6 linked regions of the Homo sapiens genome follow. The protein of the gene in region 6 interacts with the protein of the main gene of each other region in a pairwise test. Each region holds a gene or a part of one and is shown on either strand. Other genes may lie near its edges.

What was found.
Region 1: the proteins of SMYD3 (region 6) and ZNF557 interact in a two-hybrid assay, tested with the Homo sapiens proteins (one large-scale study listed by BioGRID).
Region 2: the proteins of SMYD3 (region 6) and NFYB interact in a two-hybrid assay, tested with the Homo sapiens proteins (one large-scale study listed by BioGRID and IntAct).
Region 3: the proteins of SMYD3 (region 6) and ZNF57 interact in a two-hybrid assay, tested with the Homo sapiens proteins (one large-scale study listed by IntAct).
Region 4: the proteins of SMYD3 (region 6) and TRIT1 interact in a two-hybrid assay, tested with the Homo sapiens proteins (one large-scale study listed by BioGRID and IntAct).
Region 5: the proteins of SMYD3 (region 6) and CYP39A1 interact in a two-hybrid assay, tested with the Homo sapiens proteins (one large-scale study listed by BioGRID and IntAct).

The regions. Positions count from the first base shown.
Region 1 is NC_000019.10:7,079,703-7,083,202, reverse strand, and holds part of ZNF557 (zinc finger protein 557), read right to left. Parts: intron 1,844-3,500; coding exon 1,748-1,843; intron 1,234-1,747; coding exon 1,151-1,233; intron 326-1,150; coding exon 1-325. UniProt on the Homo sapiens protein: May be involved in transcriptional regulation.
Region 2 is NC_000012.12:104,118,899-104,121,210, forward strand, and holds part of NFYB (nuclear transcription factor Y subunit beta), read right to left. Parts: intron 1,582-2,312; coding exon 1,502-1,581; intron 872-1,501; coding exon 839-871; coding exon of another isoform or gene 834-838; 3' UTR 1-833. UniProt on the Homo sapiens protein: Component of the sequence-specific heterotrimeric transcription factor (NF-Y) which specifically recognizes a 5'-CCAAT-3' box motif found in the promoters of its target genes.
Region 3 is NC_000019.10:2,899,783-2,903,727, reverse strand, and holds the start of ZNF57 (zinc finger protein 57), read right to left. Parts: upstream 2,801-3,945; 5' UTR 2,683-2,800; coding exon 2,680-2,682; intron 1-2,679. UniProt on the Homo sapiens protein: May be involved in transcriptional regulation.
Region 4 is NC_000001.11:39,849,005-39,852,504, reverse strand, and holds part of TRIT1 (tRNA dimethylallyltransferase isoform 1 precursor), read left to right. Parts: intron 1-2,243; coding exon 2,244-2,386; intron 2,387-3,500. UniProt on the Homo sapiens protein: Catalyzes the transfer of a dimethylallyl group onto the adenine at position 37 of both cytosolic and mitochondrial tRNAs, leading to the formation of N6-(dimethylallyl)adenosine (i6A37).
Region 5 is NC_000006.12:46,650,019-46,654,229, reverse strand, and holds the start of CYP39A1 (24-hydroxycholesterol 7-alpha-hydroxylase), read left to right. Parts: upstream 1-1,411; 5' UTR 1,412-1,647; coding exon 1,648-1,824; intron 1,825-4,211. Other genes in the region: SLC25A27 (mitochondrial uncoupling protein 4), read right to left, coding at 932-1,037. UniProt on the Homo sapiens protein: A cytochrome P450 monooxygenase involved in neural cholesterol clearance through bile acid synthesis. Catalyzes 7-alpha hydroxylation of (24S)-hydroxycholesterol, a neural oxysterol that is metabolized to bile acids in the liver.
Region 6 is NC_000001.11:246,500,780-246,504,279, reverse strand, and holds part of SMYD3 (histone-lysine N-methyltransferase SMYD3), read left to right. Parts: intron 1-3,500. UniProt on the Homo sapiens protein: Histone methyltransferase. Specifically methylates 'Lys-4' of histone H3, inducing di- and tri-methylation, but not monomethylation. Also methylates 'Lys-5' of histone H4.

The sequences.
Region 1 (3,500 bases), on a different chromosome or scaffold from region 6:
GGTATGAGGAATTGCTGAAGGTTTTCCCACAGTCACTGCATTCGTAGGGTTTCTCCCCATTGTGGATTCTCTTATGAACAGTAAGGTAAGATCTGCTGCTGAAGGTTTTCCCACAGTCATTGCATTCATAGGGTTTCTCCCCATTGTGGATTCTCTTATGAACAGCAAGGTAAGATCTACTGCTGTAGGATTTCCCACATTCACTGCAGCCATAGGGTCTTTCTCCAGTATGAATCTTCCTGTGCCGTGTAAGGGAAGATTTTGTGCTGAAGACTTTAAAACACTGATTACATTCGTTGAGTGTTGCTCCAAGATGATTCCTCTCCTATTGATTAAGAGATGACAATAAGTACCATTTATAATATTTTTAACATTGAATGCTGTCAGAGGAATTTCCTCTCCCAGGAATTCTGTTGTGTATCATAGTATTGGAATTAATGTTTTTGCCATCATGAGTGCTGGTACATGGCTTCTGTCAGTTTGAATTCTTAGCATTTAAAGAAGATGGATTCTTTCTACAAATCTTTATCATATTCACAGAGTATTTTTGATAAATTTAAGGCTAATTTCTTTTTCAAATATCCAATATCTGACTCAGACTACTGGAAATATTTACTTGTGGGAATTCTCAGGAAAAACAAGTTTGGGGCTAACTAATGCTTTTCTCCAAATTCAAAATAATTTCACAGTATCTCTCCAGAGGTACTACTTTATCTTTGAAAAAAATGACACTTTCCTTTAATAACTATTTAATAAAGCCACTTTTTTTTTTTTTTTTTTTGAGACAGAGTCTTGCTCTGTCGCCAGGCTGGAGTGCAGTGGCACAATCTCGGCTCACTGCAAGCTCCACCTCCAGGGTTCAAGTGATTCTTCTGTTTCAGCTTCCCAAGTATTTGGGATTACAGGTGCGCATCACCACACCCAGCTAAGTTTTTTTTGTATTTTTAGTAGAGATGGGGTTTCACCGTATTGGCCAGGCTGGTCTCCAACTCCTGACCTGACCTCATGATCCAACTGCCTCAGCTTCCCAAGGTGCTGGGATTAAAGGCATGAGCCACTGTGCCTGGCCAACAAGGCCAGTCCTTGTGGCTTTTCTCATGTAGGGCATTCTACCATGAAAAAAACCAGGAATCACCCATGTTAGTCTTACCATTTTCATATTTCTAGATTGTTCTTTTCGAAAAACATGCAGCTTAGGAGTTAACCCTTTGGCTTTAAATGGATTCTCCACATCTGAAACAAGTTAAAAAGAAATTTAAGTTGATAGAAAAGAGGCAAATTTTAAGTTGATGGTGAAATAGTAAAATGCATACGTGAGTGAAGGCAGAATCTGAGAGGTGAGGGTTTTTGAGAAGGCATTCGGTGAAAGAGATATGGGTGTGAAAATTTTAGGCAATGTTTAAGAAAGACTCTAGGAAGATTGAGATTGATGTTGACAGAATGAAGGAATTGTCAGGAAGGCAAGGTGGACTGAAACTGATCAAAGAGCTCATAGGAGACTTAAATTTCAGAAAAAGAGATGTCTTTTTTTCTCCCCTGAGGCCCAAGTAAAGTATGAGATGACAGAAAGTTGGAAGTCATGAAGGTACATGAGGGGGCTCAGACCAAACGTTCTTGGCCTTCTTGGGAAAAGGGGCATTTACACAGTTCTCTGACTGATATTTCCTAATGTATTATAATACTCCCAACTTCTCAGTCCCTGGCCAGAGCTGTTCCTCACAAGGACTTATATCCACCTGGTGCTCACCTGGACAGGTACCTGAGAGAATTCCTCTCTCTTCTGTCATCACTTTATCTTCTTGCTCCAGCTGGGAGATCAGCCTAGGTTTATCAACTTGGTTCCCTGTACATGGAGAAAAGACACATGATGTAGGGGGACTGTGCAGCAGACAAGCTCTCCCATGAAACTGAAATCAGTTCTGAAGGTGAAGAGGTGTGACTTCAGGAGCAGAGAAATAATTATGCCAAAATTGAATAAATATAGCAACCGTCTTAAACACTCACACACACACACACACACACACACACACACACACACACACACACACACACCCCACAAGCAATATCTAGGGTGGTTGCAGGATAACTGGTCCCAGGAGCCCCTGTCCAGGTTTAAATACAGAATCTGAAAGCCCAAAAGATTTAACTACAGAGAATATATAGTCAGGGAAAGAAGGAGATCTTCATTTCATACAGATAGCATTAGACAGACAGCTCCATGAGGGTGGGGGGCATGTCTGTTGCATTCTTCACTACTCCCACATCCCAGCACAGACCTAGGAACAGAGGTGCTTATGAAGGACTTAAACGAAGTAATGTCAGTGAAGGTAGTGGAGTAGGGAACTCCACAACTCCATCCCTTCACAAAAACAGTATGTAAATGGGCAAACACAGAATCAACTTCATTGGAGCTCTTGAATGTCATCAAAAGTTTACAGCCACAGGAGAATGCCTAATCAAGACAAACAGCTGAATCTGGGTAAGAGAGATTTGTGACATTTTAACTGACTCTAGCTGCACACTCTATTCCCCATTTTGCCTTGAGGACAACAACCTGTGTTTCTAGTGCTGAAGGGAACAGAATGCACCTTATTCTCAAAAACCTGTGGCTGTTCTCTTCTGACCTGTCTGCTGGCTCCCTGATGGGCTGGATCAAAGGGCTTCCCTTTATTTGTGTAACTCCAAACTCTCCCAGGTCTGAAGAGGCTACACCTATGGAAGCTGGAGGGTGGAGAGGGAAGTGTGTCCCAACACATCTAAAGGCAAATCAGCCACTGCTCAATGGGGCAAGGGAAAACTGTGAAGCAAACAAAAGACTAACCAAAAAACCTGGGAGGAGAAGTTGGGAACAAGATGCTCTGAGGAGTAGAGCATCTTTCCACACCTTCTTTTCCCCCACAAGATGGAGTCTTGCTCTGTCGCCCAGGCTAGAGTGCAGTGGTGTGATCTCGGCTCACTGCAACCTCCACCTCCTGGGTTCAAGCAATTCTCCTGCCTCAGCCTCCCAAGTAGCTGGGATTACAAGCATTTGCCACCACGCCTGGCTGATTTTTTTGTATTTTTAGTAAAGATGTGGTTTCACCATCTTGGCCAGGCTGGTCTCCAACTCCTGACCTCAGGTGATCCGCCCACCTCAGCCTCCCAAAGTGCTGGGATTACAGGCATGAGCCACTGCGCCCGGCCTCCACACATTTCTAGAAGGCCATGCTCATACCCAGGGATGAACACATGCTCAGAGAAGATCTGAGAAGGCACCAAGCCCTCACCTTTGACTGACCTTCAGGCTCTGCATAAGAAGGAACTGAAGGCTAAGTCAGAGTTGTAAGATGCTTTAGCTGAGTTTTGAAGGCATGCTCCAACATGTAATTCAGATCCATTGGCAAAGACTGGTCATCTTTTGGGTTCCAGGTATTTAAAAAAATCTCTGACAAATTAATCCCAAGCTGAACACTAAGCTAACAGAACAGAGACTTCAGTGGCCACACATGACCAATACAGAC
Region 2 (2,312 bases), on a different chromosome or scaffold from region 6:
ATACTATAGTACTTGAAGATATGATTTGAAAAAAAATCATGTACCAAATGAAAGGGGCACCATTTCAAGAGCACTAGGACTACATTAAACTTAAATATATTCCCACATTCTTAAAAATGTAACTCAAAACCAAATCTAGTCTTAAAAAAGCTCCAGTAACTAAAACTACATTAACAGGCACGATGAACAGTGTAAACACTGTTAATGGGCACCAAGTTTAACAGGGCAGACAATATTTGCTTCTGCATTCACACTTATTCAATTACATTTTTTAAAAAAATGATGCTGCTTAAACTATTAATGTTTTACCAAAAAAATAATAATTTTAATAAATACAGCAAATGCTAGAAATCTAGCTAGGTTATCATGCAAGGTATAACCAAGACAAACTCAAATTTATAATAAAGGCAACTTGCATTCAAAATGAACTCTACCCTTATATTTTATTAAAAGGGCAAACATCATGAATTAACCCAGCCGCTTACTTGAATTACAAAAGTAACATGATTCAATATGAAAATAAGAAACTGTCTACAAATCTCTGACAGTAATAAATTGCAATATACAATGCATACAGGAGTCATACAGAGCAACAAACTCTCGTACAAAACAAAAATATTTTAATACCTTTAAAATCCAAATTTTTCTTTAAAATCATTCATGAAAAAGATTCTCAAGTCAGAATTAACACCTCAATTAGTCAAGCATCAGGAAGCTACATTACAGCTATTAATATACAAAGATACATCTTTTCACCAGTCTTTCCTTCTGATGTCTCTGTTCCAGAATCATACAGACTCTCATTTCTCTACACTCCCCATTCCATCATTTCTTCAGATCATGAAAACTGAATTTGCTGAACACCAGAAATCTAAGATTAGAAAATTTAAATTGAGCAGAATTAAAGAAAAGGAGATTAAAAGTACCATATGCATATTATAAAAATTCAGTGAATAAAAAGACAATAACAAGTCTAATTCCCATTTCTTGTGTATCTTTCTAGAAATCTCCTATGCAAATATGAACATATGCTTATTTTTAACTATTAAGAGAACACTATATACTGTTATCTACATTGAGAAAACACAATTTTAATAACCTTCTTTATCAGGTCCTTAATAGCATGTTGAAATTAACTATATCAATAGATATAATAAAAAAAAAATTTTTTTTTTGAGACAGAGTCTCACTCTATTGCCCAGGCTGGAGTGCAGTGGTGTGATCTCAGCTCACTGCAACCTCCACCTCCAGGGTTCAAGTGATTCTCCTGCCTCAGCCTCCAAGCAGAGGGGATTACAGGTACACGCCATGACGCCCAGCTAATTTTTGTATTTTTAGTAGAGACAGGGTTTCACCATGTTGGCCAGGCTGGTCTTGAACTCCTGACCTCAGGTGATCCACCCACCTCGGCCTCCCAAGGTGCTGGGATTACAGGCATGAGCCATGGGGCCCTGTCGATACAATCAAATTTTTTAAGCATTTAAAATACAAAGGACTGTACCTGTTGATATGATGTTGTGTAAACCATAACATTTTGTTGTTGACCGTCTGTGGTTATTAAGCCAGCTGGTAACTGGTTAGCTAAAAGAAAAAAAATTAGTTAAAGAGGGAAATGAACTATATCTACTTTCTTGGGTTGTATCTTAAGGTTGTACCATTAATGTCTCATTACAATTCTGCCCGGTATCAATGATGTAGTCTTGGACAAAATAATAAATCCTCCAATTTTCCATTTTAAAAAATGTTCCCTAAAAACCACATTATTTTATATTGCGTTTTTCAATTTTCCTATCTCTAACATGTACCTTAGCTAACTGCCCATGTGTACAAATCTGTAGACAGACTGGATGAAGTTTCTGATTCATGATTAAACTACACTACACCATGAGGTTTGGCTAGGAGCAACATATAACTGAGCAGCATATAGTTTACATATGAGAAATATATATAATGAGAAATTTACTCAACATAGCCCTTTTATTTCACCAATATGACAACATGATACTCAATTTAAAAAAAACTGAGTTGAAATTTATTTAAATCATAAGATTTTATATTACAAACTTTTCCTTAATATTCCTATCTCATATGAATCTTCACCAAAAACTAGGGGCTACAGAACTCAGTCAGAACTATCAGTGAAAGGTTATAATGTCTACAGAATTAAACTTTTCTACACTTATCACTCACTGACTTCAAATAAAAGGGCATGAACTGATAAGAACTATTTAAAATAGTGCTTTGTCAAAATACTCACTGCTGACATTCCAAAAATACCATTAGATACTTAGTATGAATCATTGCTAACAATC
Region 3 (3,945 bases), on a different chromosome or scaffold from region 6:
AAAAAAAAATTCAAAGGAGGCAAAATTAAAACTCTGTATGGTGATAAATAATAAATGGTAAAGGTAGAGAGAATGAAAAAAAAAATCAGGACAGTGGTTACCCTGGGGGCAGAACAGAGATGAGCGCTGGGAGCAGCACACAGGTGTTGAAGAGAGGCCGGAGGCCTATTTATGCGGGCAGTAAGGCCACTGGTGTTTATATTAAAACTTAATCCAGGCCGGGCGCGGTGGCTCACGCCTGAAATCCCAGCACTTTGGGAGGCGGAGGAGGGTGGATCACTTAAGGTCAGGAGTTTGAGACCAGCCTGGCCAACATGGCGAAACCCCGTCTCTACTAAAAATATAAAAATTAGCCGGTCGTGGTGGCAAGTGCCTGTAATCCCAGCTACTCGGGAGGCTGAGGCAGGAGAATTGCTTGAACCCGGGAGGCGGATGATACAATGTGTGGAGATCACGCCACTGTACTCCAGCCTGGGAGACACAGTGTCTCCAAAAAAGAAAAACAACACTTAAAGCATAAACTAAACCCACTGCTTAGAAACGGCTCCAAGACAGCACAGGTGCAACCTCAGAAAGGCTAAAACGCCCACAAGCACATCTCCAGGACAATCGTCTTTCCCATGCTCAGCAGCCTCAATCAGCATGAACAGTTCCCGCTGCGGCTGTTCTACGAGGCAGGAGGACTGAGCAAGTGGAGGCTGCCCAGCCAGACCCCGCTGCACCCTCAGCGGCCTCCAGTGCAGGCTCAACTGTGGGCTCAGCTGGAGTCACCGGTCTTGGGGCTCACCTCCCTGCTCCAGGTGCTACACTTTAAATGCCACAAAGACCCTCATCCCGTAGAGTGAGAATGCAGCAGAATCAGTGCTTTCCACCCCTTGTGTAAGTGGGGGAAGGGAGTTCCAAGGCAGTCTTTATGACTTTACATGGCCAGAAACTGCTTTTCCCAGTCAGCAAACAGATGATGGATCAGTGAAGCAATACTCCTGGTGACAAACTGGAAACTAACCAGAATGGAACACGCCTCAGTTTTACAGGTTTTTGCAGAATTTGCATTAATCTCATGTCTAGCTGAACTGAAATGGAACACGATCACACACTGTCGCAAACTCTGCACCTTGTATGGAAGAATAACTATTATTTTTTGTCTGATTGCTTTGGCATTTGAAAAACTACTATTTTTATGAACATTTTAATCCATCTCTAGCTGCTATAAGATGTGGAACTGCGCACACTTTCTCTACAATTCTGGTGGGAGACAGAATATTCCTGAGAGACTTCCTTAGGCCATGCTTAGCCTGTACCCCACGATAAACAGGTGTTATCCTGACGGACCAGAAGGCAGAAAACACACTTGAACATTTTCCTATTGTCACTAAGGAGAAGAAAAAAGCCAAACAGGAGAACAGTACAGTACATTTACTGACACCGGCTGCCCGAATAAAGCTTTCACAGCATTAGTGATACCCTGCAACAAAACCCCCAGGGCAGCTAACTCCCACCGCTGAGGTCGTCCCCCAAACTGCCTCTGACCCCCAGGCCGTCCCTTGCCATCCCCCCAAGCTGTCCCCTGTAAGGTTCTCTGAGCTGGCCGCACCATGGTCAAGCCCCCCGCCCTTGTGATAATGTACTTTGTGATATTCCCCCGCCCTTGTGAATGTACTTTGTACGATACGTCCTCCTCGCCCTTGTGAATGTACCCCGCCCTTGTGACAATACACGCTCGCGCCCTTGTGAAGGTACTTTGTAATATTCCTCCCAGCCCTTGTGACAATACATCCCCCAAGCCCTTGTGAATGTACTTTGAAACATCGTCGCCGCCCTTGAGAATGTACTTTGTAACACCCACCAACTGTCCTCAAAAAAACTGCTCCTAACTCCGATGCCTGTCCCAAACCTATAAGGACTAATGATTGCCGGGCGCGGTGGCTCACGCCTGTAATCCCAGCACTTTGGGAGGCCGAGGCGGGCGGATCACAAGGTCAAGAGATCGAGACCATTCTGGCCAACATGGTGAAACCCTGTCTCTACTAAAAACAAAAATTAGCCGGGCGTGAGGGCGGGCGCCTGTAATCTCAGCTACTCCGGAGGCTGAGGCAGGAGAATCGCTTGAACCCGGGAGGCGGAAGTTGCAGTGAGCCGAGATCACGCCACTGCACTCCAGCCTGGCGACAGAGCGGGACTCCGTCCCAAAAATAAAAAAAATAAAAAAATAAAACCAATAATAATCCCATCACCCTTTGCTGAGTCCTTTCTCAGACTCAGCCCACTTGCACCCAAGTGAGTAAACAGCCTTGTGGCTCACACTAAGCCTGCTCAGGTGACCTCTTATACGGACACGCGTAACATCCCCAACCTGCTGACCGTCCCTTGCCGTCCCCCCAAACTGGTCCCTGACCCCTGACCGCCCCTACCGTCCCCCCAAACTACCTCCAGCCCCCCTCCTGCCCAGGCCTCCCCCTAAGTTACCCCCAAGCTCCTTGCCGCCCCTTCCGTCCCCCCAAACTGCCCCCAGTCCTCCAGCCCGGCCGCTGTGATGGCGTCCCCGGGTCCCAGGTGCTAGTCCTGCGCCGCCCCGCGCGTCCCTCAGCCAATCCCGGCCGCAGACTTCGGCGGACTCTGGTTCCAGCCGGTTCCCGTCGCTCCGACCGTCCCCTGGCTCTGCTCCTGCCTCGCACTCACCATGTCTCCCCTGCTCCTGGGCTCTCCAAGGCGAGCTCTCCGTGGCCTCGCGGCCGGCGCAGCTGAAAGGTACAGGTACTCCCGGGCCGCTCGTGGTAGGCAGGGCACGCGCGGCAGGGAGGACGAAACGTCCCGCCCTCGGGGCCTCGGAGCTCAGGAAGCGGCGCCCTGATTGGACAATCTCTAAGCCCCCGCCCTTTCAACGCTCTGAGCGGACAGCGTTTTGGACACGCCCCCTTCACCCCTGGGGCCTTCGATTGGACACTACTGCAAACCTGCAATCCGCTTCCCGGTGTCCGCCCCGTGCCTTGATTGGACAGTTTTCCGGACCCGCCCCCGGAGCACCTGATTGGAAGATAACTTCCGCGCCGCCCCGCCTCCTGTCGCCCGAGTGACCGGCGCGTAGCCAACGCTAGTGGCTGACCCGCCAGCGGTGGACACTCCCGTTTGCGCGAACTCGCTCTGGCCCGGGGTGAGCCCAACCTCTCCCCGCAGCTCGGCCGCGCCTCCCGCGTCCTTCTCCCGAACGGGCACGAGAAGTCCAGACTCAGTTTCCCCACGGAGCAGCCGGAGTGCTGCGTGGAGGGGAGGGGCGAGCGAGCGGCGTGGGTCGCGTGGGGTGAGCCCTTCGTGGGGCGGGGTCCTCAGCCGTGACGTCACCGCGCTGCCCCGCGTGGGCGCGGACCCCATGGAGGCCCTGCCCCGTGCTGGAGCACGTGCTGTCAGTGTCCTGATTTTTTTTTTTTTTTTTTTTTTTTTTTTTGAGGTGGAGTCTCGCTCTGTCGCCCAGGCTGGAGTGCAGTGGCGCCATCTCGGCTCACTGCAAGCTCCGCCTCCCGGGTTCAGGCCATTCTCCTACCTCAGCCTCCCGAGTAGCTGGGACACAGGCACCCGCCACCACGCCGGCTAATTTTTTTGTATTTTTAGTAGAGACGAGGTTTCACCGTGTTAGCCAGGATGGTCTCGATCTCCTGACCTCGTGATCGGCCCGCCTCGGCCTCCCAAAGTGCTGGGATTACAGGCGTGAGCCACCGCGCACGGCCAGTGTCCTGATTTTTTTACCCAAACGTTTCCCAGCCTCCTGTCCTTCCCACAGGCCCCTGCACTTTGGCTCGCCCCCGACATCTGAGCCTGCACTAAAATAAGGACCAAACCTCGAGTCACCTGATCCCGAAAATGGGCGGACCCCAGGGAGCCCCTATCCTGTCTGGCCTCGCTGGATTTGTTTTTTTGTTGGACATTGTTTTTTGTTTTATTTATTTTTTT
Region 4 (3,500 bases), about 210 Mb from region 6:
GTTTTCCCCTAGGGCCTATATAATGTTGCTTCATTTTCTATTTGATCTTTGCTTGTATAACAGTTTTCATATACATTTTTTCTGGCATGCAGTTTGTTTACATTGTGATTTGGGTTTCATAACTGATTATGCAATGCCGTGTTCTGCCCCAGCAGCTTTCCCAGTGGGAGGTGGATTTTATTAACTGTCTCACAGATCAGCTCACCTTTGCACATGGAAACTATCTGGTAGGGAAGAGAGGTAGTGAATGAACTCACAAGGTCATGTTTTTTTAGGTTGTTTTGGAATTGCAGCCTCATGTTAGGTTTATTTTTCTGCAGTATTAGGAGTGATACCACTTCCAGCATAGTAGAACATCTAATGAAGGACCTGTTCTATTGATGGTTATACAGATTAAATATTAAAGTAACATCTCATATTCATAGGGGTTGTGAAGTATTCCACTCAAATGAATTTGATATTTTTCCTCCTAATTTTACCCCCCTCAGTGAAACTTAATGTTAGAATATAGGATTTAAAACATTCATTATTATTATTACTTTTTTTTTTTTTTTTTAAGAGATAGAGTCTTACTTTGTTGCCCAGGCTGGAGTACAGTGGCACAATCATGGCTCACTGCAGCCTTGACCTCCTGGGCTCAGATGTCCTCCTGCCTCGGCCTCCTGAGTAGCTGGGACTACGGGTGTGCACTACTATACCTGGCTAGTTTTTTAAATTTTTAATTTTTTTTAGAGATGTTTTGCTGTGTTGCCCAGGCTGGTTCCAAACTCCTAGGCTCAAGCGATCCTCCTGCCTCAGCCTACCGAAGTGCTGGGATTATAGTCATGAGCCACAGTACTCAGCCAAGAAAAGGATTTCTTCAGGTAGGGTTGTCCTTTGCACGGCAGGGGGGTGGGGCACAAATTGTAATATCTAAGTTTTTTCACCCCCTTAAAGGCAATGTATAACCTCATTAAGAATGCATGTTTTAGATTAATGAAGTTTATACTTTTCAGTATCCAAACATTTTAAACACTTTAATAGAAAACATTCAATTTTTTTTAAACCTAGGAACATTATGATAAACATTCATTTTTATATTGTTTTATTACATGATTCTAGAGCTTGGTGTTTATTCTCTCCTTTTACTAATCAGTTCTTTCTTATCACTTCTCATTTTGCTGCGTCTAAACGAGTAATGAGTTTGAGAATTTTTTCTTAGTAAGAGTCAATAGGTTCTAAGCAAGAGCTCTAGAGTCTCATTTAGAGAATGAGGACTTTCTTTTTTTTTAATCTTTCTTTTGGCTTGAGGCTGTATTTTAACTCCAGATAAGTGAGATATCTATTACTACATTTTTTCTCATAGATCTTCTTTGAGAAACCAGTGATACTGAAAGACAAGGGGGTCTACACTCTTGCGTTAGGGTTTCAGGAAGTAGAATTGGGTCAGGAAGAGAAAGATCACTTTCAGGCTGATAAGTTGCAATCACCCAGAGTGGTAGAGTGTAGATTTGGGAGTTAAATTACCTAGTGCTGCATAACATAATAGATACGGACAGAAGTGGATGGTGGCTTAAGAATAAGTATGTGAGTTCTTTTCTCAGTGATCTTTGTGCCAGTAGAGCACTGGATTAGCCAGGAGCATTCTTCATTAATTTGACATATTTAAAAAGAAAGCTGATGAGCTGGATGTACAACATGCTTTTGTACTGTGGGAAAGGCACGCCAGCCAGACCAGACTTGTTGGCTTGTTACAAAGTGTCCCAAACAAGCTCTTTTACTGTTTATCTGAAAGTGAGTGAGTACCATTCTGTTTGTGTAGAAGAAACCTGTTGTTTCTGAACCTATTTAACTGATTTCAGAATAATTTATATATCTTTAGAAAAATAATATTATTTCTTACTTTACCTAAAGTTTTCTTTAGTACCCTTTTCTGAGTAGCTGTAGGACTGGAGTAACCCTAGACCTTCATGTCTTTTGGAACTTAATGCAGTGAAAATGAGAATAAGCCTTTCTGCATGCCCCCTTTTTGAAGAGACAGGGTCTGTTGCTGCTTAGGTTGGTCTTGAACTCCTGAGCTCAAGCAGTCCTCCCAGTTTGGCCTCCTGAGTAGCTGGGACTACAGATGTGCACACTGTCGTGACTGGCTTTCAAGAAAGAGGCTTTCTGTAATAAACAGCCTTTCTCCTTGTTTTACTTGAGAATGAATATTTTCTATTGGTTTTTATGGGTGTGCCCCCTCCCTCCCCTTTTAAATTACTTAGGAGCTTGCAAGTTTTTGAAGAAACAGGAATCTCTCATAGTGAATTTCTCCATCGTCAACATACGGAAGAAGGTGGTGGTCCCCTTGGAGGTCCTCTGAAGTTCTCTAACCCTTGCATCCTTTGGCTTCATGCTGACCAGGCAGGTAACAGCCCTTTGATGCCCTAGAGTCCATCTGTGATGGAACTTGGAGTAATAAGTTACTGTATAGAAAATGCTGAGAACCATGGGTGGCTCATAATAAACACTAAACAAGTATTAGCTATTAATTTTATTATCATTATCATTATTTGTTGGCTTAGGCACAGTGCCATTCCCCTAGATATCTGTTTGGAAAGGGAGAAAGGATAGCCCTGGCATTAGGAGAAGACATCACAGGTAGAGTGGGATGGGATGGACGGAATGGGAAAGAGACTGCCATCCAGGGAAGGTCCAAAGGAGAAAAAGAAGGCAGTCTCTTGTGGAAGGTTGGCTGGAGGCTAGAATGTTCTAGAAGCAGTATGCCTTATAATTAGCTTGCTAGCCTGATGGTATTTTGTTGCTAAAGTATAATTATGTCCGTGATAGTAGTAACTTATTCATCCAGCAAACATTCAGTAAGCATTCAATGAAGTGCTGGGTATTCTGTGTGGTACTTCGGTTTCAGAGTTGAAGAGACAGTGCCTTTCCTTAAGGAATTCCCAGTCTAGTGGGACAACAGACAAGGAGATAGATACTATCTGTCTGTCTATTATTTATGTGATAAATGCTGGGCTAGATATATTTTCAGAGTGCTGTAGGGCCACAGAGAAGGGATGACGAATATTATCTTGGGGGGAGTCAGAGACCAGTTTGCAAAGGTAGCCTATGATAGGCCTGGAAAGATGACATCATTATGTGGACAAACAGTAGAGTGTAGCACTGAAGAGCACAGGCTCTTGAGGCAGACTGTCTAATAGCAAATTCCTGCTCCACTAGCTTCTAGTTATGTGAATTGTTAAGACAAATTAGTTTACCTTTCTGTTTCCCAATTCTCCTGTAAAATAGAGATAATAGTAATAACACATATTTCCTAGCTTCATCAAGGATTAGATGAATTAATACATATATAGTGCTCAGAATGTGCCTGACACATGACGGGTCCTCAATAAATGCAAACTTTCTAGGAAGGTTACTGTTGCTGTAGGCCAATAAATCACAATGATAGAGATGTAGAAGAACATAATTAAAATGGTGACAATCTGTTGTTAAATTAATCTGCCATAAATTGATAAAAAAGG
Region 5 (4,211 bases), on a different chromosome or scaffold from region 6:
TTTTATTTTTTTGTAACAGGCAAGAAAATGTAAGGGTAATCTTAAAATACACAGTTAAGGCTTCACAGGAAACACATGAGTATACTACTCACAAAATCCTTGGAATAAACGCTACTTGCTCATTCAAGGGCATCATCATTCCACTCTAGATGGCCTCTTAAAGTTTTTTCTTACTCATGTAGGCAGATGTAACTGCTCTTCTATGCTTTTATGACACCTAATAATATCTTCATTATAACAAGTAGCACATTATAATTGTCTTTCTCTGTCTCCCCAGCAGCCTGTAAGAAGGTCAGAACTGGGTCTTTTCAAATATATATCCACAGTCCCTGGTATTGTAGGAATTATAAAAATGTCGCAACTAATGGGTGTCCTGCCTTGGGTTTAGCAATCATATATTATTGACTTCTCAGAATCCTGCAAGGTAAACAGTATAGATGAATTACACTCAAAGAGGTCAAGTAGTCGATGCTCTGTGAGTGGCAGGTTAATAACGGAAGTCCCACAAGGTAGGTCCACAACTTGGACCCACAAGATAATGACAGTGTGGCTGTGTAAGACTATAAACCACAGAGATGATCTCAGTAAGGATGGAAAACAGATTACGTTTTTAAAAAGGTCATCCTCATGAAAAGGAAAATGATTCCTACAGAGGAATGACAGCTCGCGAAGCTTCTTAAAGTACAACATTCAAGCACCACAGCACATGCCTAAGGGAAGCATTAGAAGAGATTAGAAGGAAAAGGCCGTGGAGACCTCAATCCCTCCTCCTCCCACCGCGGGCCTGGCCTCCACCGCCACCTCTGCCAGGCGGGCATGGAAGGGGCGACCTCTCCGATGCGCACTGCCGGGCGCGAAGCCGCCCGCGCACCCTCCCCCAGCGCGGCGCGTGCCACTGGCCCGGGAGGCCCAGGCGTGGGCAGCCGGGTACCTAGCTCGGCCACGGTAGCCGCGCAGCCGGACAGTAGGAATTTGCTCGCTCGGGGCCATCTCTGGGTCAGCGGCAAAAGCCTCTCCTCCTCCTCCGGGACGGACATTCAGCAGTAGCGCAAGACGATAACGCACTCCTTCTCGCCGCTGCGCTGCACCGCGCCGCGGCGGCCGCTTCCCTGCCAGGGCGGCCCCTTTTCAACCGGCGAGTGGCCGGGTGAGGACCATTTCCCTCGTTCGGCTCGGCCGGGTGGACCCGCAACCTTCCTAGCAGTCCCAGCTGGAGTGGTCCAGCTGCCCCTTACACCCCAGAATAGAAAAACACAGCGGAGCCCAGGAGGTTACTGGGCAATGTAGTCCGCCGGGCTCCGCTACGTCTCTGATTGGCCGGCCGCGGGTCCCTCTGCGGCTCCGCCCCCGGCCTCCATGGCAACGCGGCTGGTTCTCGCCCGTCAGTCCTAGCCCGGCCCTGCCCCTCCTTGCATTTTTTCCGCGCTGGCTGAGATTCAAAGAGAAGTGGAGGTGGGAGGGAGCGACAATGGAAAAATCACCTGAAAACTGGGACAGAGGAAGGAAGCTACAGTTACGAAGGAGAGCTGCAAAAGTTGCAGCAGAAAGGTTGGGAGTCCCGACAGGTTCCGTAGCCCACAGAAAAGAAGCAAGGGACGGCAGGACTGTTTCACACTTTTCTGCTTCTGGAAGGTGCTGGACAAAAACATGGAACTAATTTCCCCAACAGTGATTATAATCCTGGGTTGCCTTGCTCTGTTCTTACTCCTTCAGCGGAAGAATTTGCGTAGACCCCCGTGCATCAAGGGCTGGATTCCTTGGATTGGAGTTGGATTTGAGTTTGGGAAAGCCCCTCTAGAATTTATAGAGAAAGCAAGAATCAAGGTATGTGGTCGTGGCAGACGGGGTCTCCAGAGGAGACAATGCTTTCTTTTTTAAACTTTCTTTCATTGACTCTTAAGTGCAGGGCTAGAACACGGGGAACATACCTGCTTGCCTCAACTAAAGGATCTAGTCATTTCTGAATTCCTCTACTAACAATTAACAACAATATCCTGTGCAAAATTTTGCGAAAGAAATGAAATACAATTGCAGCGTGCATCGACATTTTTGGAAGTAGAGATTAACTTTTCGTATTTTTACTTCATCGAAGTTAAGTTCCAAATGTGTATGTGTTAAGTAAATGTTTTCAGTAATTGGGAAAGATAAAGTGTAATCCAATTTAAGTTTGTGAAAATGAGTAATTCGTATCCAAATTGGAGTTAACACCAAAGTATTGTACAAATTGCTTGCACAGTTGGTCCGTACACAATAAACAGGCTCTGTATTTTTAGCTGACGTTGTTATTTGATGATGATGTACTCCATTTTCACTACGGCCTGAAGAGACTAGTAATCCTCCTTGTAGTAGATGTTTTTGTCTTGAAAGTATCTTTTAAATGTCTGAGCACTTTAAGGAACAGACCTTTATTAATGTCTTTTAAGTTTTATTCAATTTCCAGTCACAAATATTTTATGGTATTTGATTGTCTAATAAATTTGTATGATATTATAATTATTCTTATGAATTATAATACTTTCTGTGGTGACCCATTTTCCATCTGGTTAGCCCAATTTGTAGAATGAATTTATACGTAGTAGCATTATTTTACCACTGATCATTTGCCTTCAAAATCTCTGAGATTCCAATTTAGTAAAAAACATATAGAAAATTAAAGAGAACTAAGATGAAAATAAAAATAACCCAGAATATCACACCAGCTGTACTGTAAAAATTTAGTGTATTTATATTATTTTGGTCATTTTCCTATGTATTTACAACTATTTAATGAACAACAATGGAATAATAGTATAATACTCTTTTATGTGCTTTTGATTTTAACATATAATGTGAATGACTTTCCTGTACCATGAAATACTTTGAATCTTCCTTTTATGGCTATATTTTGTCATAGGAGGATACAATAGTTTACTTAAATCTCAATAGTTGGGTTTATAGGTTGCTGCCAAACTTTTTTCTTTCAGCCAGTGCTTCAGTGAACATTCTTGCGTGTTTGTGTGCATGTATTGATTGTGTGGTTGTACATTTTGCAATTATCTGATTGTTTACTCAGAATAAATTCCTAGGAGTAGAATTGCTGAGTCAAAGGACATGCACACTTAAATTGTTTATATGAATGTGTTACTTTTGGAAAAAGAAGTATGAATATGCAATTTTTATTTTCCATTGACTGTATGCAATTGCCTAACTTCTCAAATCCTGGGCCATACTGAATACCATAATTCTTTGCAATTTTTGCTAGTCTGATAGATGAAACATTATATCTCCTAAAGAAATACTCCTTTGTCTCCCACAGCCTTCCTTATGCATATGATCTTGATAATTTTTAAGGAACTGTTTTTTTACAAGCTTGTGTCAGAAGGCTAAATATTTGTGAGGTCTCTATTGCTTTCCTGACTAAACAAAACAAGTTATTGCTGGACTCTGTGTCTCACACCTGTAATCCCAACACTTTGGGAGGCAGGGGTGGGAGGATTGCTTGAGGCCAGGAATTTAAGACCAGCCCGGGAGATATAGCAAGACCTCATTTCTACAAAAACTAAATAGAAAAATAAAAAATTTAATCTGGTCCAGTGGCACATGCCTGTAGTCCCAGCTCCTCGAGAGGCTGAGGCGGGAGGATTGCTTGAGCTCAGGAGTTCCAGATTCCGGTAAGCTATGATTGAGCCACTGCACTCGAGCCTGGGCAACAGAGCGAGACCTTGTCTCTTAAAAAAAAAAAAAAAAAAAAAAAAAAAAAAAAAAAGAATATGACTGCATTATTTGATGTTTTACTACTAAAAGCTTTTAAGGTTCACTCTTGTCTTTTCTTGTACCCTTAATCTGGGCAGTATGATAAAAAAAAAAGCCAGAGTGCTCCCACCTTTGGTGCCAGGGGAGATTCAAATCACACAAACCTCAACCTTCATGCAGGAAGGCTCACACCAGCCTACCCCCTAACCACAATGAAACCCTAAGACCTGTCTCTTTTCACTGTTTTCTCAAGTCATTTTCAGATCAGCTTGAGAGGACTGCCCTTCTTTCCCCAGAGAAGTCTCATTGTGTATGAAATAAACCTCTTCATACCCTCTCAAGGTGTGTATGTGTGTATGTGTGTGTGTGTGTGTGTGTGTGTGTGTAAATGTAGTAATTGTCTTAACATCCAAACCAGATCTTGGGTGGGGGTCCATTCTGAGTTTTCGCAGTGGCTGCAACAGGTACTCAGTAGACTT
Region 6 (3,500 bases):
AATGAAATCACCTCATGATGTCCTTAAGGGATGCACATCTCTACTTCCTTAGGCTCCAGAAACAATGGTTACCAAGTTTTACATGATTTCCTTTGCTCTAGAGCTGTTTTGATTAGTAGCTTTAGTTCTGTATACTTGTTTTTGTTAATGGAGAAAGGTGAACCTGCTTCATGGCTTATCTTACCTTTTTCCTCTCATTAAGGAATGGCTTCTGGTTTTTCCGTGTTGTGCCTGGAAAAGAAAATGAAGTATGTAAGTTGTAGAAAGAGTAAATGGCAATGAAATTATAACCTGAAATCACTTTTTTTTTTTTTTTTTTTTTTTTAAGATGGAGTTTTGCTCTTGTTGCCCAGGCTGGAGTGCAATGGTGTGATCTTGGCTCACCACAACCTCCGCCTCCCAGGTGCAAGCGATTCTCCTGCCTCAGCCTCCTTAATAGCTTGGATTACAGACCACGCCTGGCTAATTTTTGTATTTTTAGTAGAGATGGGGTTTCACCATGTTAGTCAGGCTGGTCTCAAACTCCTGACCTCAGGTGATCTACCCGCCTCAGCCTCCTTAAGTGCTGGGATTACAGGCGTGAGCCGCTGTCCCCGGCCTGAAATCACTTATATTGTCCTTCTGCCGTTGCATGCATTTTTAATTTGATGGAGGTAGAACAGGTTGGTTGACAATTGGGTATGAGTTATGTGTATTTCCCGTTTGCTTTGGTGAGTGCAGCACATAAAATTCCATTGTTATGATTGTATTTGTAAACCTTCTCACTCCCTAGTGTAGTGCTCTAAGTCTAATCTTTTTTATATCCCCAGGGCCTACCACATGGGAGATGTTAATCATTCAAGGATTAATATTTTGGGGAACTTGAAGTCGCTGTATGTTTGTCTTTGGTTTTCTCAAGTTCCAAGTTGCCTGCAGCTTCCATATCAAGAGTTACTTCTGGCAAACTCTAATGATAGTTTCTTCTGTAGGGTAAAGAGAATAGCTCATCTGGCATTAAGGCTGAGAATGAGGCTTAGTGCCTCCCAGGAGGAAGGAGGATGACTTGGAAGTAGACGTGTCATCCCTTTCAGTCCTGGTGGATTGTGGGCAGCGGGGGGACAGAGGTAGGGAAAACAGATTGTGAGAAATATGTGTTCTGATCTTTCTTGGCTGGCTAAAGTTCTAGGGTTAGGGTGGGGATGTTAAATGGGTTGAGGGGACGGTCAGCAGTAGAAGGCCTTTTGCTCTGCTCCTTATGTGGAATCTTGAGAGGAGATGTTATGCAGGTTAGTGATAGGCCAACACGGGCCTATAGCACAGCAGTGGTAGAAGGAAGTGGCTAGATAGTTGAGTTTGTGGTACCAGGGGATTCTGAAATGCTCTCATACCACTGTGAAGGAGGTGGAGGAGCTTATTGGCCTGGTGGAACAGCTGGCGTCATGACAAAAGACTGTGTGACTATAGACTGAATGTCAGGATCACAGACTCCAGGGATGAGAGCCAGCATGACATCCTAAAAGATGAGATGGGACCAGTTCAGCCATAGGACCTGATTACCTCCTTGCAGCAGAGACCAGTGAGGATCCAGAGAAACAACACAGATCCAAGGTCTTCTTGCCACTATTTCTTCTAGGATGTCCGATAAGACCTTGGAGGGAAATCTACCCGAAAGCAGCCATTTAAACCAGCCCGGGTAAGGAGTTAAACAAAGTCTGAGTATTAACTGGAAGAGATTGAGATATTGTTTGACAAGTTTTAAATTTCCTGGATATTTATTAGAGTAGATATTCATGAGGAATATTAGATTAATTATAGAAAAAATGGCGCATATTCAGGAGACAGATTAGATGAGTTATAGAAGATAAAGCAGGCTGGGCATGGTGGCTCATGCCTGTAGTCCCAGCACTTTGGGAGGTCGAGGCAGGTGGATCGCTTGAGCCCATAAGTTCAAGATGAGCCTGTGCGACATGGCAAAACCCTGTCTCTACTAAAAATACAAATAATTACCTGGGTGCATGCCTGTAGTCCCAGCTACTCAGAAGGCTGAGGTGGGAGAATCAATTGAGCCCAGGAGGTGGAGGTTGCAGTGAGTGGTGATCACGCCACTGCACTCCAGCCTGGGTGACAGAGTGAGACCCTGTCTCAAAAAAAAAGAAAAAAAAAAAGGCAGCTGCATTTGAGTTGCAGTGTGAGTAAATGTGACCAGGCAATAAAGGGTAATAACTCACTGTGTTTGGTGAGATGATGGAATGTCTCTTGGCCAAGGACTGAACCTGGGGTGGAGATGGAAGGGAACATCTTCATATATGAGGGTAAGAAGAAGAGGTGCCAGAAAAGGCAACAGCAGTGGTGATTGAAAAGTTTAAGGACCGCTAGGGAAGTGGTTGCTAAGTGACTCAGCCTTAGGAGAGATTGGAAATAGTCTTCTAGGAGAGAAGCATAAATTGCCTCGTGAAATGTAGGATTGTTGAAAAGTGCTGAGGGTCTACTTAAAACTTGTGTTTGTTTATTTAAAGTGGGAACAGTTAGTTGGGTCATGTTTCCTTTCTCTCCCAATTGCCAGCTGCTTGGCTATGAGAACTGGATTTACCTAGGATTGCTAGGTTAGCATGATGGACGGAGAGAGGGGACGGGAAGTTGAAGTTGTAGGCAAGGGAGGGTGTAATTGTGGATCATGGTTTCTCAGGTAGGGAATGAGGTCGTAAGGAAGGTGATGGCCAGTGAAATGTGGCCGAATCAATGGATTAGAGGTCCTCATGTGGTCAGAGAAATGGTGAGTGGTCAGATAATGGGTTGACTTGATATGTACATGCTTAGAAGTAGTGTGTGTCTTGATACAACAGGTACGGGGTGTGGCAGAATGTGGCCAAGGTAGGGAGTAAGAAAAGATTTTTGGTCAGGAAACCCAAAGGCTGAGGTTAGTTGAATTATCTAAATAATGAAGTTACTAAGAATGTTAGACATTGGCATGAATAGTTTCAGCAAAGGCAGAATTCTCACATTGGCTAAAATAACCCAAGGTTTAAGGGTCAGTAGAGTAGAAGAGGCTAGTGGAGACAAGGAAGCACTTACCTCTGTGAAAATAATGTAAAAAGACGTTACTGGGTTTACGGCTGATTTTGTAAAATATGGTTAGCACCAGGCGTAAGTGAATTGCTGCAGTGTTACAGACTCTTCCTTGGAGGCCCTGAAGGTCAAGCAACTAGCAAAATCATTTCAAAGAGCAGAACCTTGAACGATGGCTTGAAGTAGGATTTGCAACTTCCTGGGCAGTGGCTAATGGGTCTAGGATTTGAAATAAGGTGGAAGAATTGATAATAATGTGGTTTGGGAAAGGACTTTATGGATGTGACTACATTTTTCTTTTTAAGTGGGAGTCATAATTCCTGTTTCTTCTACTGCTTCCTTTTCTTCTGTAACGAGGTTTGGGAAAGGGCTTTATGGCTGAGCCCTGGTGAAAACATTTGGTCCATGTGAATGCCACAGCAGAGGGCGTTCTTAATCAGACAGGATGACCTGCT